4 linked regions of the Homo sapiens genome follow. The protein of the gene in region 4 purifies or fractionates together with the protein of the main gene of each other region. This does not show direct contact. Each region holds a gene or a part of one and is shown on either strand. Other genes may lie near its edges.

What was found. Proteins that work in one complex are often made in the same cells at the same time.
Region 1: the proteins of XAGE1A (region 4) and PCDH7 purify together in Homo sapiens (affinity purification with mass spectrometry, with the first as the bait; one large-scale study listed by BioGRID). This does not show direct contact.
Region 2: the proteins of XAGE1A (region 4) and E4F1 purify together in Homo sapiens (affinity purification with mass spectrometry, with the first as the bait; one large-scale study listed by BioGRID). This does not show direct contact.
Region 3: the proteins of XAGE1A (region 4) and CELSR1 purify together in Homo sapiens (affinity purification with mass spectrometry, with the first as the bait; one large-scale study listed by BioGRID). This does not show direct contact.

What each region holds. Positions count from the first base shown.
Region 1 is NC_000004.12:30,922,869-30,926,368, forward strand, and holds part of PCDH7 (protocadherin-7 isoform d precursor), read left to right. Parts: intron 1-3,500.
Region 2 is NC_000016.10:2,230,091-2,233,590, forward strand, and holds part of E4F1 (transcription factor E4F1), read left to right. Parts: intron 1-2,080; coding exon 2,081-2,274; intron 2,275-2,365; coding exon 2,366-2,486; intron 2,487-2,665; coding exon 2,666-2,818; intron 2,819-2,920; coding exon 2,921-3,093; intron 3,094-3,347; coding exon 3,348-3,500. UniProt on the Homo sapiens protein: May function as a transcriptional repressor. May also function as a ubiquitin ligase mediating ubiquitination of chromatin-associated TP53. Functions in cell survival and proliferation through control of the cell cycle.
Region 3 is NC_000022.11:46,387,621-46,391,120, reverse strand, and holds part of CELSR1 (cadherin EGF LAG seven-pass G-type receptor 1 isoform 1 precursor), read left to right. Parts: intron 1-45; coding exon of another isoform or gene 46-278; exon of another isoform or gene 279-593; intron 594-634; coding exon 635-729; intron 730-1,621; coding exon 1,622-1,831; intron 1,832-3,500. UniProt on the Homo sapiens protein: Receptor that may have an important role in cell/cell signaling during nervous system formation.
Region 4 is NC_000023.11:52,494,671-52,498,607, forward strand, and holds the start of XAGE1A (X antigen family member 1), read left to right. Parts: upstream 1-1,137; 5' UTR 1,138-1,239; exon of another isoform or gene 1,240-1,368; coding exon of another isoform or gene 1,369-1,559; intron 1,560-2,645; coding exon of another isoform or gene 2,646-2,691; coding exon 2,692-2,787; coding exon of another isoform or gene 2,788-2,803; intron 2,804-3,314; coding exon 3,315-3,441; intron 3,442-3,937.

The sequences.
Region 1 (3,500 bases), on a different chromosome or scaffold from region 4:
CAAATTTGTTGGGTCCGTGTTTTCAGACTACTCATCTAGCCATAAAGTGCAATTGTGTTGCTTAAATTCTGGTAATTTCATCTTCAGTATTAATGGATCATTCTGACATAAATAGAATTGGAATTGAAACCTGTCAAGTATTCATTTGTCACATTTAATTGGAATCCAGGTAATCTGTAGTTTTTTGCTTGGCTAGGTTTTAATCAGGATTTGTATTGGATTTTCATTTGGATTTTCCATTAAAATACCATTTTGGATGCTGTGCTAGTTCCTAATTATTATTACCTCAAACATTTTTCTTGAATTTTAACCTATGTGAAACAATGCAGTTATCAGCAAGTGTTTGGGATTAACTTTCATTGTAAAGTTTAGAAGATAATTTCTAGTGCAATAACAAGTAAAATTCCAATGTCATGCTAACAAACCAGGAATAAGTTAGGATAGCTAATGATAAAAATACATTTTCACAAATGCAGAGAAGGAACAGAAACAAGAAAATTTAAGTGAAATGTACTTACATTTTACAAAAGCGTTATCTTCCTTCTGTACTGTAGTATGATGAATACAATTTCATTCAAAGGGCCTGTGTATTAATTCCCTGTTTAACAAGCTTTACGCTATATTCTAAAACACATTACCGCCAAATGTAGAATGAGGTTTTATTCTCTTATTAGCTAAGGAAAAAGAATATACCATAAGAATAAATATAATTTCTTACCACCGGAATCTAATAATGTAGAATGAGATCCACCATTTTAAAGTTCCAAATCTGTAGAATGCCACAGGTCCCTGGAAAGTAACACTAGAAATTACCCCATTTAAAAAATATTTTAAGAAAACCTTATTAGTTATACATTTATTTGTGACAAAGATTACTAATATATATTTCTTTGCCTTTAATTATCATCATTATGATAATTTCATGCTAATCTTTTAATATCAATCTAATCAAAGATTGAGGAAATTGGTTATTTGTTTCATTAAAATACATTTAGCAATAAAGTAATAATTCATATAGAGTTTATGGGGGAAATAGGTAATACAAACATTTGACAATGAAAATGTTAGAATAATTGATGCATATTGCAATGGATTGGTAATTCAAGTTAAAAACCAAACATTAGGCTTAAAAGCACCATCTCATTCAAGGCAAGCATTGACTGTGCAAGAGTTTGCTCTTATTTTAATTACGCAGTAGTCTTCAGACTTTCTCTTGGAGTGGTATACAATGGTTTCTTTAGGTCTATTGTATTTATCCTGGTCCCTACCTTCATGCCATGACCTACTTGATCTTTCCAAAGCCCCCTCTAAATTATCTTTGCAAAGCCAGTTTGCCTTTGCTATGTAAGTCTTTATGATAATTAGTGTTTAATAAGCTCAGATATAGAAAACACCTTGCTTGGCTTCTCATCTCAATTTTGCCATCAGCATTGGGTAGGCTACTGTCTAAGGAAATTGATAAATCAACTCTGAAATCTTACTCGGTTCCAGGTCCAATAATCTGTGATTCTCTTACATTCAATTTTTCTTGTATCTTTTATGCTATAGAATGGAGACATTTGTCTCATAGTAAGATAGTGAGTGAATTTGACAATGTATGTTAATGTGGGCAGGCCAGTAGTGATTCTAGGGCCTTTCTCTGAACCCACACAGCAAGTGCATTTTAATAGTAGAAAATGCATTTATTACATAAATCAAAGGAGTGGACTGAATCAAATGGTGTGATTTCTGGCCAGGTGGGTGGAAATGTTGGCACCATAGTAGGCCAGTGTGGGAGACAGCTGTGGAGCCTCCTTCAGATCCCACTATGCAAGAACCATCTGTAGATCTGATCAAGCCCTGGGTGCAATGCCCTTGAAATACATGAATTATGATTAAGACATTTCACAATAGAATAAGCACATGTGTTTTCTTACTTAACAATGTGAACTTTGGTCAGAGTACAAATGAAAAAAAAAAGGTAGGAAATAATATATATTTTTCTGTAGGTAGACTTTCTTAAATATCACACCATAAAAATAAATTAAAAAAAAAACAGCAGATGATCCATAAACCAGGTTTATAACAAGTTAAATGAGGTTCGAAATTTGGCCACTCTAAATCCCTAATTCATTTTATGCCTCTTGATTTTCTCAGATCTTTAAATAATACTTTTGACTTTATACATGAATATTTTTGAACTTTCCCTTTCCAAACTTCCTTACTTTGTCACACTTATATAAGCTAAGCTCAACTGTTTGATTCATTCCATTTCCTTCATCTCTTCATTCTACATGCATTATACCTTGTCCTTGATTATTTAAACATGCTGCAGTAAAACATGGACTTTTCATATTGCTTTTAGACAGTGTATTTGAAATATCATTGAGAATAAGCCACTAATTTTAAATGGCCAAGTGTAATGAGCATAGAGACCAAAGGCATATCTTTGTATGAGATAAAGGACCTCCTCTTTCTCTCTCCTTTTCTCCTGTCTCCCAATTTTCAAGCAGGCATCTGTCAGGCAAAGTTGTCTAGTTATTGGTTTGTGCTGATTTCACGTAGATTGAGCAAACTTCTCTAGCAAGGCTGCCTCTTCCATCTTTCCAAAGATCCTCATATACTTTTTAATGGCATAAGCACAATACCTAAAATACCAAATACCTGTCATACCTTTTTTCGTCTTCTGCAGAAAGAGACTAACATGACTTGCTAAGGATTCATTTTCACAGTTTTGCATTTCTCTGTGCCACCCTAGTTGCCAGTGTCTGACTGAGGCTGCAATTGTTTTCACCTTTCCTGTCAATTGTGACATGGCTCTATACCTCCCAAGTATCCCCCAAAAGTCTGTATGCCACCACTTTGGGAGGGTGCTATTCACTTTGAATTTCTTCATAGTAATATATAGAGAGATGGATTATAGAGACTGTCTCTAAGCCAGAACTCAACTAATTAAAATGTGTGCTATAGTGGCTTCTCAGCTGTCTAGTAAAATGAGCAGTACAATCTAAAAGAGTCTAAAGAAGGTACTGTCCTAGAGAAGAATTGGCAGTGCTGTAAGTAGAATCTACTGGTTTACAAAACAAGCTTTGAAATCTGATGACCTCAGTTTGAATCCTGGCTTTACCTCCTACAAGGAGTATTATTTTCTAACCCCTCTTAGCTTCAGTTTGTTCAATTGCAAATCATAGGATTGCAGAAGGAACTAAATGAGACAATAATATGCAATAATTTATAAATAAGTAATAAGTTGTATTTTCACTATATTAATTGATAAAATGTTTTACCATTATTATTTAAATAACAATGATAAATAGTTGGGATTATTATTAACTTTAGGTCGTTTTTTTTTTTTGAGATGGAGTCTCACTCTGCCACCCAGGCTGGAGTGCAGTGGCACAATCTCGGCTCACCGCAAGTTCCGCCTCCTGCGTTCAAACCATTCTGCTGCCTCAGCCTCCAGAGTAGCTGGGACTATAGGCGCCCGCCACCACACTCGGCTAATTTTTTGTATTTTTAGT
Region 2 (3,500 bases), on a different chromosome or scaffold from region 4:
GTGGACGGGACTCTCCCGCCTCTCTAGCTGGGCTCGGACTTGCTGCTGGCCGTGGCCTGCCCTCCCCAGTGCTCCCTCTGGTGTGGGAGTGGTGATTGCTACACTGGTCCTCATGGGGCTTTTATGAGCGTGCAATGCCAGGACTCTTTGATGGCTACTTTTTAAGTGAAGATGTCTCTCTCCCTGATGTGCTGTGGGAGGGGCTGTTGCGAGGTCTGGATGGGCAGGCTCTCATCGGGGACAGATGCTTGTGCAGGGGGGCATTCAGAGGCAGCCAGGGCCTGGGCAGGTTGAGGGAGCTAGGGGCTGCTGGGGTTGGGGGTGCGGCAGGGGCGAGTGGCTAGGTGTGCAGACGCGAGGGAAGGAGCTGTCTAGGGACCTGATGCTGTGGGAGGTGGGGCGGGGCATGGCTGCTGCCTGGGGAGCCTGCTGGACCGGGGCTGAGGCAGGCGGGGAGTGGGCAGCTGGACAGGAAGTAGGTTTGGGCACCAGGCGGAACCTGGCCTTGGGCAGCCCTGGGGACTGGCTGCAGCAGGAAGAGGGGGTGGAGGAGCCGTGGCGGAGGCCAACCCGGGGCCTGGGAAGGGCACCTGTGAGCAGGCTGCTCTCCAGGAGGCAGCCAGGGCACCTGTCTCACCTCCGTGCTGCCTTTCCCTGGCATTCCTGCGACCAAGACACTCATCAATGCCACTCAGAGCTCGGAATGTTCATGTGGGAGGTGGGGCGGGCTCTGGCCTTGACCTGGCGTTTGGTTTCTGGGATGGTGGCGTCACCTGGGAGCATGAACTCCTTAGGTTCTGGCGGGGTCTCTGGGCTGGGTCTCTGGCCAGCCAGGCCCCTTTCCACCCACCTAAACTCTAGCAGCCTCCAGCCCTAGGCTCAGCACCCCTCCCTGTGCTTCAGCAGCCCCTCTTGGCACCCCTGCCACTCTGGCACCCCTGGGATTTTCCCCTTTGCGGGCATCCTGGGTACTCTGTGTGTGCCCTTGGCCAGTCAGCAGGCCCGGTGGGCTTAGTCCAGGGCTGCTAGCTCTCCTGTTGGCCTCTAGTGGAGATGGCAGAGGGTCCTGCCTGCTGGTGGCCAAGGGCTGGGGCGTGCCAGGTCCTGTCTTTGCGGGTGCAGGGGTGCGGTCAGCTGTGTGGGCAGTTGGAACCCACCTCCAGGCCCTCCTGCCGCTTCGCGGAAAAAGTTCGCGTCTCCTCTGGCCTCGCAGCAGCCATGTTCCCCCAGGTCCTCCCCATCAGAGGCCTCTGTCCTTTGGAAGATCACTCCTGGGGCATCGAGCGTGTAAGGGCTCGGGCAGGAGAGGCTCTTAATTGTTTCTGAGTCACCACGCTTTTGTCGTGTTTCAAGAGAACAGCTTGTCAAAACAAGACGCCAGCCGGACTGAGGTGGTTTCTAAGCAGTGGCTTCACAGCTGTTTCCCACTTGTCATCTTTATGAGCAGAAAACCTGAACTGTGTTTACAACCTAGCTTTGCACATTGTCAGATTTTTCCCAGCATCCTCCAGAAGTGCAAAAGCCCAGCTTCCTCGCCTCAGGCTGTCCCGGGTGTCTGGAGAGCGTTCACTCTCCCAGGCCAAGCCTGCCTTGGGACGGGGCTCTGGCCAGGCCTGCCTGCCCTGCTGCAGTGGCCCAGCCCATCTCCTCCGATGGAAGAGTGGCCCCGGACGCACATCCTCCCTATGTTGGTGGGAGCAGTGGCAGGAGCAGTGGCAGCGAGCAGGACAGGCGGCTGTCTCTTCACCCAAGGACCTTGTCACCAGGATTCGCACGTCCTCCTGGCTTTGGGGATGGGGCATCTGTGCTCCATGGTGGGTCTCCCTGTGGACACATTTAGGGGCCCTGGAGCATCTCTGGGCAGCCTGACAGAGTCGGGAGGTGTCTCTCCACCTCTCACTCTGACCTGGAGAGGTGAATGGGACCTTGGCTGTTGCTCGGACCTGTGTGTTGAGGGCTCAGTGCAGGTTGGGTCCAGGGTGTGGCTCAGAGCAGCAGGTCCCCTCCCCTGGAGCCAGCAGTCTCTGGGGTCTCTGGACAGGGGCAGGTCCTGGGGCTTAGGCCCAGATGCTTCTCCTAGGTGGTGGGCACATCAAAGAGGTCATCGTGGCTGCTGAGGCGGAGCTGGGAGACGGTGAGATGGCCGAGGCCCCGGGCAGCCCCCGCCAGCAGGGGCTGGGGCTCGCAGGGGAGGGTGAGCAGGCCCAGGTGAAGCTACTGGTGAACAAGGATGGCCGCTATGTGTGTGCGCTGTGCCACAAGACCTTCAAGACGGTGAGCCGGCGTGCGGGGAGCCAGTGTGTGGGTGGCAGGCCCCCTCCTGTTCCCCCAGGAGGGCCCTGAGCTGCCACGCCCTCCCCCACAGGGCAGCATCCTCAAGGCCCACATGGTCACTCACAGCAGCCGCAAGGACCACGAGTGCAAGCTCTGTGGGGCCTCCTTCCGCACCAAGGGCTCACTCATCCGGCACCACCGGCGGCACACGGGTGAGCTGGCCGCACCTCGGGCTGGAGCCCGGTAGCACCCCGATGGTTGGCCCTGGGGTGCCCCAGCCTCGCATTCCCCAGCTTTGGGGGATGAGGCGGGGGCCCCTGCCTGCCTTCGCCTTGTCACCTTGTCGCCAGCCTGCTGGGGCTGCCCGGGGCTGACTAGGTTCTCTCTGCAGATGAGCGCCCCTACAAGTGCTCCAAGTGTGGAAAGAGCTTCCGGGAGTCGGGTGCACTGACCCGGCACCTCAAGTCTCTCACCCCCTGCACAGAGAAAATCCGCTTCAGTGTGAGCAAGGACGTGGTTGTCAGCAAAGAGGACGCACGTGCAGGTCAGCATGGTGCGGGCAGCTGCCTGGTCCTGGGGGCTGGCTGTGGACGCAGCCGCCACTGGGGTGTGTGAGGGATCTTCACTCCCTCACTCCACCTTGAAGGTTCTGGAGCTGGAGCTGCCGGCTTGGGGACAGCCACATCATCGGTGACAGGCGAGCCTATAGAGACTTCACCCGTGATTCACCTGGTGACAGATGCCAAGGGCACCGTCATCCACGAAGTCCACGTCCAGATGCAGGAGCTGTCCCTGGGCATGAAAGCCCTGGCCCCAGAGGTGGGGGCGACGGGGGGCCCCGGAGGGCTGCTCTGTCTTCTGCCTGCTCGGTGCCAGTCTTTGTTCTGGGCACTGGCTCCAGGGGTCTGAGCCAGGCAGGCGAGGGCTGGGCTTCCCACAGGGAGAGCAGGGCCAGTGGGAGCGCCATGGGGGTCTGAGGGTTTGCACAAGGCTCCTGGCGTGCGTCTGCCCCATGGGGTGGGTGCTGGATGCCAGGCTGCCTGGCCAGCCTCCTCTCTCTGCCTCCCCTGCAGCCCCCCGTCTCCCAGGAGCTCCCCTGCTCCAGCGAGGGCAGCCGTGAGAACCTGCTGCACCAGGCCATGCAGAACTCCGGCATCGTCCTTGAGCGCGCTGCTGGGGAGGAGGGTGCCCTGGAGCCAGCTCCTGCTGCCGGGTCCAGTCCCCAG
Region 3 (3,500 bases), on a different chromosome or scaffold from region 4:
ATGTGGGGACTCATGGAATGTTTCGTGTTGAAAAAATATCCGCAGGCAAAGTGCTGGGGAGAAATCCGATCGCCTTTTCCCTACCAGGAAATACACAAAGCAGGCAGAGGGCGCAACAGAAACATGAACAGTGCAGCGCGTGTGGGGACGCCCGCCAGTCAGGCCCGGCCAGTCCCTGCTCTGCCGCTCAGGCTGGGGCACCGGGACAAGTGGCTTCACTGTTCATAGCATCGGGTTACCTCTGTGAAATGGGGACATTGACTGTGTCCACTCTGTGAGGGGCGTCTGGAAAATCCAGTGAGGCAAGGAAAGGCCCAGCCGAAATGGATTCCTGGTGCATGGGATCGTGGCTGCCGGCAGATGGTGTTGCTGATTTCTTTCCTCACGGACTTGCTCGGAAGTGCTGGCTCCTGTTGGCTGGGCTCCCGAAACGCCTGGTTGTCAGTGTCAGAGCAGCTTCGGCCGTGGCCCTGACATGAAAGAGGGGCGCTGGTGTCGACCTCCTGGCCCCCATGGGGTTCTAACCACCACGCAGTGTTCTGGGTTTAAGTATATTCAGATTGTGGATTGAAATACACAAGCATTGATCAACAGTTTGAGTTTCAGGCTTTGCACACCTGCTCTCCTTCCCCAGGAAATGCGGTCCGACACTGCAGCGGGGAGAAGGGCTGGCTGCCCCCAGAGCTCTTTAACTGTACCACCATCTCCTTCGTGGACCTCAGGGCCATGGTAGGGGCGCCTCGGGGATGTGTGTTCAGCAGGGGCACGTGTGTGTTCGTGTATGCGTGAGAGAGTTTGTGTGGGCCGAGGCTCCTGGGCTGGGGAGTGTTGGGGCGGCTGGGATGGCGCAGGGACAGCCCCACGGGCCCGCAGCCTGGAGCCAGCAGGTTCCTGTGGACTTCGGGGTGTTGGCACCTGAGCCAGGCACCCCCACGTGGACTTCTCTCCCCCAGAGGACCCAGCTCTGTGTCTTTGGTTCTGAAAACACGGGGTCCCTGCATTTGACTCCATTTGCCCTCTGATCCTGCCCTATTTCATGGCTTTTGTTCCCACGTCTCCCACTCGCTATCTTTCTCTGAGCCCTCTTTGGCCCACCAGACCCTCGTTTCCATGGTCTAGCTGTCAGCAGTGCTCATTTTTGGGCTTTTTGTTTTTTGTTTCTTTTTTTGGAGATGGAGTCTCACTCTATCTCCTAAGCTAGAGGACAGTGGCACGGTCTCAGCTTGCTGCAACCTCTGCTTCCCGGATTCAAGCGATTCTGCCTCAGCCTCCCTGGTAGTTGGGACTTACAGGTGCCCACCACCACACCCTGCTAATTTTTTTATTTTTAAAATAGAGACATAGAGTAGAGTATTTTCAAAATAGAGAGTAGAGACGGGTTTTCACCATATTGGACAGGCTGGTCTTGAATTCCTGACCTCAAATGATCTACCCGCCTTGGCCTCCCAAAGTGCTGGGATTACAGGCGTGAGCCACCATGCCCAGCCAGGCTTTTGGATTTTTTAAAGTTCCTTTCTGACAAGGAAACTTGCACCAGACAGTAGTGAGTTGCTGAGTAACAGCAGGGACTGAAAGCGGCCGAAGTGGGTTTGCACACATCACGACTGCCTCCCTGTTCCAGAATGAGAAGCTGAGCCGCAATGAGACGCAGGTGGACGGCGCCAGGGCCCTGCAGCTGGTGAGGGCGCTGCGCAGTGCTACACAGCACACGGGCACGCTCTTTGGCAATGACGTGCGCACGGCCTACCAGCTGCTGGGCCACGTCCTTCAGCACGAGAGCTGGCAGCAGGGCTTCGACCTGGCAGCCACGCAGGACGCCGACTTTCACGAGGTAGGCGGGTGGCCGCCACCCTGGCTCGGGGACACTCGGGGACACTCGGATGCCCGTGGGTGGGTGCTGTGGGGCTGGGCGTCTACCTCAGTTCGTGGAAGACGGTTGTGTCCAGGATCCCCATCCTCATTTCTCAAATGTGAGCCCTGGCGGGTGCAGTGCCTGACTAAACTGACGACGAGCGTTAGGGAGTGTTCTGGAAGGAAACATGCAGGTCACAGCCTTGCTGGTGATCCTGGTAGTGCCTGTAGTGTGATCTAAGTGGCTTCTAAGGGATTCTAAGTGGCCCACCTGCATCAGCCCCTCTCCCTTCCATGCAGCCTGTGATGGAGTATCGTCCACCCATTTGACAGGTAAGGAAACAGAGGCACAGAGAGCTAAGGCGTTTGCCCAAAGGCACAGCTTGTAAGGGGCAGGGCCCGGCAGTGGGCCCCCATGTCCACTCCCACCCGCAGCTCTGAGGTCCTGCTTTCAGAGGGCCACACCTCCGCCTCAACCCTCTGGCTGTGTGTGTGGAAGTTGTCATCCCCTGAGCAGTATCGTTTTAGGGTGAATGCAGAGGGGACTCACGCAGCCTGATATTTGGAAACTGCTTTCGGGGGCTCCAGAAGTTTCGTTGTGGCTCTGCTGCAGGCCTCTTCGTCCAGACAGGACCCCCAGAGGAGTGCCTGTCCACACAGAGCCCATGGGGGACACCCTGTCCCTCCCACCCATCCCCACGGAGCCCTCAGGGACCTCCTCATCCACAAAGGGCCTCCAGTCCATGCAGGGCCCCCATGGAACCTTCTAGTCTGCATAAGGCCGCCAGAGACCAGGCAGGGTCCCCTTGCTGGGATTTGAGTCCCAGCCTGAGAGTTGGGCCAGTGGCGTTTGTTCTCCATGCGTGACTCCACAAACAAGTTTCCTTTCTGGTTTCTTTTTCTTTATTTCTTTTTTTTTTTAAGATGGGGTCTTGCTCTGTTGTCCAGGCTGGAGTGCAGTGGTGCGATCTTGGCTCACTGCAACCTCCACCTCCCGGGTTCAAGCAATTCTCCTGCCTCAGCCTCCCAAGTAGCTGGGATTACAGGCGCCCGCCACCACGCCCGGCTAATTTTTGTATTTTTGGTAGAGACAGGGTTTCACCATGTTGGCCAGGCTGGTCTCGAACTCCTGACCTCAGGTGATCCACCCGCTTCAGCCACCCAAAGTGTTGGGATTACAGGCATGAGCAACCGTGCTCAGCCCTGGTTTCTGTCTTGGGTGTGGTCCCCAAGCCCCTGAGCACAGCCTCATGCCTCCACCCAGTCTTTCACACAGACCCTGGGGTGCACAGAGGCTGAGGGTCACCCTCGGAGGAGCTGTCCACATGTCCACGGCGGCCTCAGTGTGGGACCTCTGCGCAGCCCAGGTTGTGGTGGTTCCATCACTGCTTGACGTGGTTGGTGGAGTTCAGGAGGAGTTCTGATGTAATAACCAGGGGCATCGCCACATGTCTTCCCTGCCTTAGCGTCTTGGGGTATACGTGGAAAAACCCCTGGCAGGGCTCACTCTGCCAGAGTCCCAGCCTCTGACATTTGAATCACCCACAGTCTCTCTGGCTTATTTGATGGGGTTCAGGATTTATGAAAATCACACATTAAAAAATGACTTCTGGCCGGGCGCGGTCGCTCACGCCTGTAATCCCAGCACT
Region 4 (3,937 bases):
AGAGTGACACTCTGTCTGGAAAAAAAAATAAATAAAAACGGCTTTATAAATAAAGATATGAAAATAATTTATTTCTTCCACAAAAGGTCTTCCTGAGACACATCCTCCAGTAAGGGACTGTCTGTTCCCAACGTTTCTGAATGCATGAGATTGGACAAAGAGAGACGAAAGCTCTCAAGTCCCTTTTTCTACTACAAACGCCATGGGGATGCGGGTCTGGGAACAGCGGAAAACCCTACCCTGCCCTGAAAAGTCCCTGGCTCAATGTGCATGTCCCTTTCTATGAAAGTTCCTTGCTGCCTATGCGCCTTGCTCTCTAACTTCTGTCCCTCCACAACTGTGAAAGGAGACGTCGTGACTTCCTTCTTTCGTGCTGACTATGACTTAGCCAGTAGGTCTGCAGATCAGTCCTCCCAGAAAGTGAAGTGTGAGTGAGTGTGAGGGGGAGCGTGGGGGGCTTCCTGTGGGTTGTGCCACTTGGTCCATGGCCTCTGAGGTCGTCATCTTTCTACTAAAACTCAGCGATACTGCCATGGCCTTGCTGTTGTGGGGTCCCGGGCATGGGACGAAGGAGGGCCATAGCGGGGAGGAGGGTCAGGTGAGCATGGAGTGAGTTTTTTTTTTTTTTTCACGGAGTCTTGCTCTGTCACCAGGCTGGAGTGCAGTGGCGCAATCTCGGCTCACTGTAACCTCCGCCTCCCGGGTTCAAGTGATTCTCCTGCCTCAGCCTCCCGAGTAGCTGGGAGTACAGGCGCGCACAACCACACCCAGCTAATTTTTGTATTTTTCAGTAGAGACGGGTTTTAACCATGTTGGCGAGGATGGTCTCGATCTCTTGGCCACATGATCCACCCGCCTCCGCCCCCCAAAGTGCTGGGATTACAGGCGTGAGCCACCGCGCCCGGTCATGGAGTGAGTTTTGAAGGCTGACTTTATTTGAGGTATTTGAGTCCTGGTGGGGGGGAACCCACACACAGAGAGGAGGGATTCCAAAGTCGTTAATGGGGACCTGGGAAGGAGCATAGGACAGGGCAAGGCGGGATAAGGAGGGGCACCACAGCCCTTAAGGCACGAGGGAACCTCACTGCGCATGCTCCTTTGGTGCCCACCTCAGTGCGCATGTTCACTGGGCGTCTTCCCATCGGCCCCTTCGCCAGTGTGGGGAACGCGGCGGAGCTGTGAGCCGGCGACTCGGGTCCCTGAGGTCTGGATTCTTTCTCCGCTACTGAGACACGGCGGGTAGGTCCACAGGCAGATCCAACTGGGAGTTGAAGTGTGAGTGAGAGTGAAGAGGAACCAGCAGGCTTCCGGAGGGTTGTGTGGTCAGTGACTCAGAGTGAGAAGGCCCTCGAAGTCGTCGTCCCTCTCATGCGGTGCCACGCCCATGGACCTTCTTGTCTCGTCACGGCCATAACTAGGGAGGAAGGAGGGCCGAGGAGTGGAGGGGCTCAGGCGAAGCTGGGGTGCTGTTGGGGGTATCCGAGTCCCAGAAGCACCTGGAACCCCGACAGAAGATTCTGGACTCCCCAGACGGGACCAGGAGAGGGACGGCATGAGCGGTATGGAAGGGTCCTGGAGACGGGGCATGCTGCGGGCTAGTGACCGCAGCCCCGAGGTCTGTAGAGTGCCTGGCATAGGGGTCCTGTGAGGAGTGCCCACTGCTGTGTAGCAAATTCTCAACTCCACTGTGGAGATTCCAATGGGCGGGGCCCTGAGTTCCTAAAAATGTGACTTTGGGGTGGGGGGGAAGTGGGCCTAGCAAATCATTATGTGACAAAATTGGTGGTCACTGCAGTTTCAGTTCTGTAGCTGTAATTTCCTACTTGTCTCCCTGATGGAGTGTCCAGTTGTGAAACCAACCTCATGGGAAATGCCCTGTGTTTTTTGCCAGGAGCCTTAAGACATCGCTCAGCTAGCTAGACCTACTTAAGTGGCTTTGCAAGCATTCGATTCAAAAGGTGCATACACTTATACTTGCCCGGGGACTTTCAGAGTATTTCTAAATTAAAAAAAAAAAAAATGTCCAAGTTAACATTTGACCATGAAAGCGGTCAAATCTAGTTGTCCTGTCAAGTGCATTTTCCCAATCGCAGTATTCTGCTTGCAGAGTGAAGTATGTGTTGATGAGGACGATCAACATATAGGCCTATGCCAAGAAGTTCACAACCTCCTGAGCTCATTGTGCCTCTGCTTGTGAATGTCTTAACATTCGATGTTTTCTCTTAGCAGAAAGTTATTTTTCTGATAGTGTTGATGGACTAGTATGGATACACTGATAATGGTCTCCCATGCTGATAAAAAATGATCATGGCATCCCATGAAGGAAAGATTAGTCCAGAGGGTTATATTTGGGTTTTGTGTGGGTGGATGATCGTGTGTGCCCAGATTTTGTCCATAACTTCCTCCTCATGCTTATTCAGAACAGATTACACACATTCATCCCAACATTGATTAAAACGGCTTCCAAAGTCCCTGAGGATATCTGTCTTTGAGTAACCTCTCTGAGGGAAGAATAGTGTTATGAAGATTAGGTATACGGGGTAGTGTTGGAGAAATGTCTCTAGACATACTTATAATAAGACATACCTGTGTATTCTGTATATTTATATTATTGACATGTATTAATAACAAAACTTTTTATCTAGACACACACAAACACAGAACCACACAGCCAGTCCCAGGAGCCCAGTAATGGAGAGCCCCAAAAAGAAGAACCAGCAGCTGAAAGTCGGGATCCTACACCTGGGCAGCAGACAGAAGAAGATCAGGATACAGCTGAGATCCCAGGTGCTGGGAAGGGAAAGTATGTCTATGGGGCGGGAGAAGGTCTATGTGTGCATTGTGGCCTATGCCATGAGCAGTAACAGGAGCAAAGAGAACATTAGGAAAAGATACCAAACATTTGCTCAAAGTTGGCTGGAAAAGGGAGAGTATAGTTTGCAGCTTCATGCTGTCCCTGGATATAATGAATCTTCTCTTGTTCTTCGAGATGGATTTTGTATGCTTGAAAATACAGTCCTTACTAAATCACTTGAAACCATTTAATTTGGTGTATAGAAATGTACATTTTTTTATTATGTGGCAGAGGCTCATCTGTCACGCAGTGTGGATTGTTGTGGCATGATCTTGGCTCACTGCCACCTCCAGCTCTTGGGTTCAAGCGACCTCGGCCTCCCAAAGTGCTGAGATTACAGGCATGAACCACTACGCCTGGCTCAGGCTTTATTTCGTAACGCGAAGGAAGAGAATATTATCATTTCCTTATTTATATTTCATGTTGGAATGCTTAAATCGATAACCTTTGTATTTTGAAGTGCGCGACATGGAAGGTGATCTGCAAGAGCTGCATCAGTCAAACACCGGGGATAAATCTGGATTTGGGTTCCGGCGTCAAGGTGAAGATAATACCTAAAGAGGAACACTGTAAAATGCCAGAAGCAGGTATGTTATCCAGCAAGATGCAAAGTTATGTGCTTTCTCATTTACACAGTATTATACTTTTGATAATAGAGGGATAACATTAGTGCTACTTTAAAAACACAGTGCAAATGCAAATGTTCTTTGAAACGTCGTTCAGACCCAAATGCCAGATTGCAAGACTTAAACACTATCAGATACAGAAACAAATTGGGTCAAAGCCATATTGAATCATCAAACGTGACAGCATTTTCTTAGTTTGGTGTATAACCAACAGCTAACAATTTTCAGATTCTTTTCTAATTTCTGCTTTTAACAAACACATAATGCATTTGTAATACCAGTTTGTGTGAAGTATGCTGAGCCCTGAAGCAGATTCTAGTACCAGCTCTACCATAATTTGTGAGAGTCTGGATGAATCGTATAAATTCCACAGGCATCCTTGCTCTTAGTGAAAAGAGTGGATGCACATCAGATAGATTAAAATCCATTTCGTTGCTAATTTCCACATGCTCTGGTT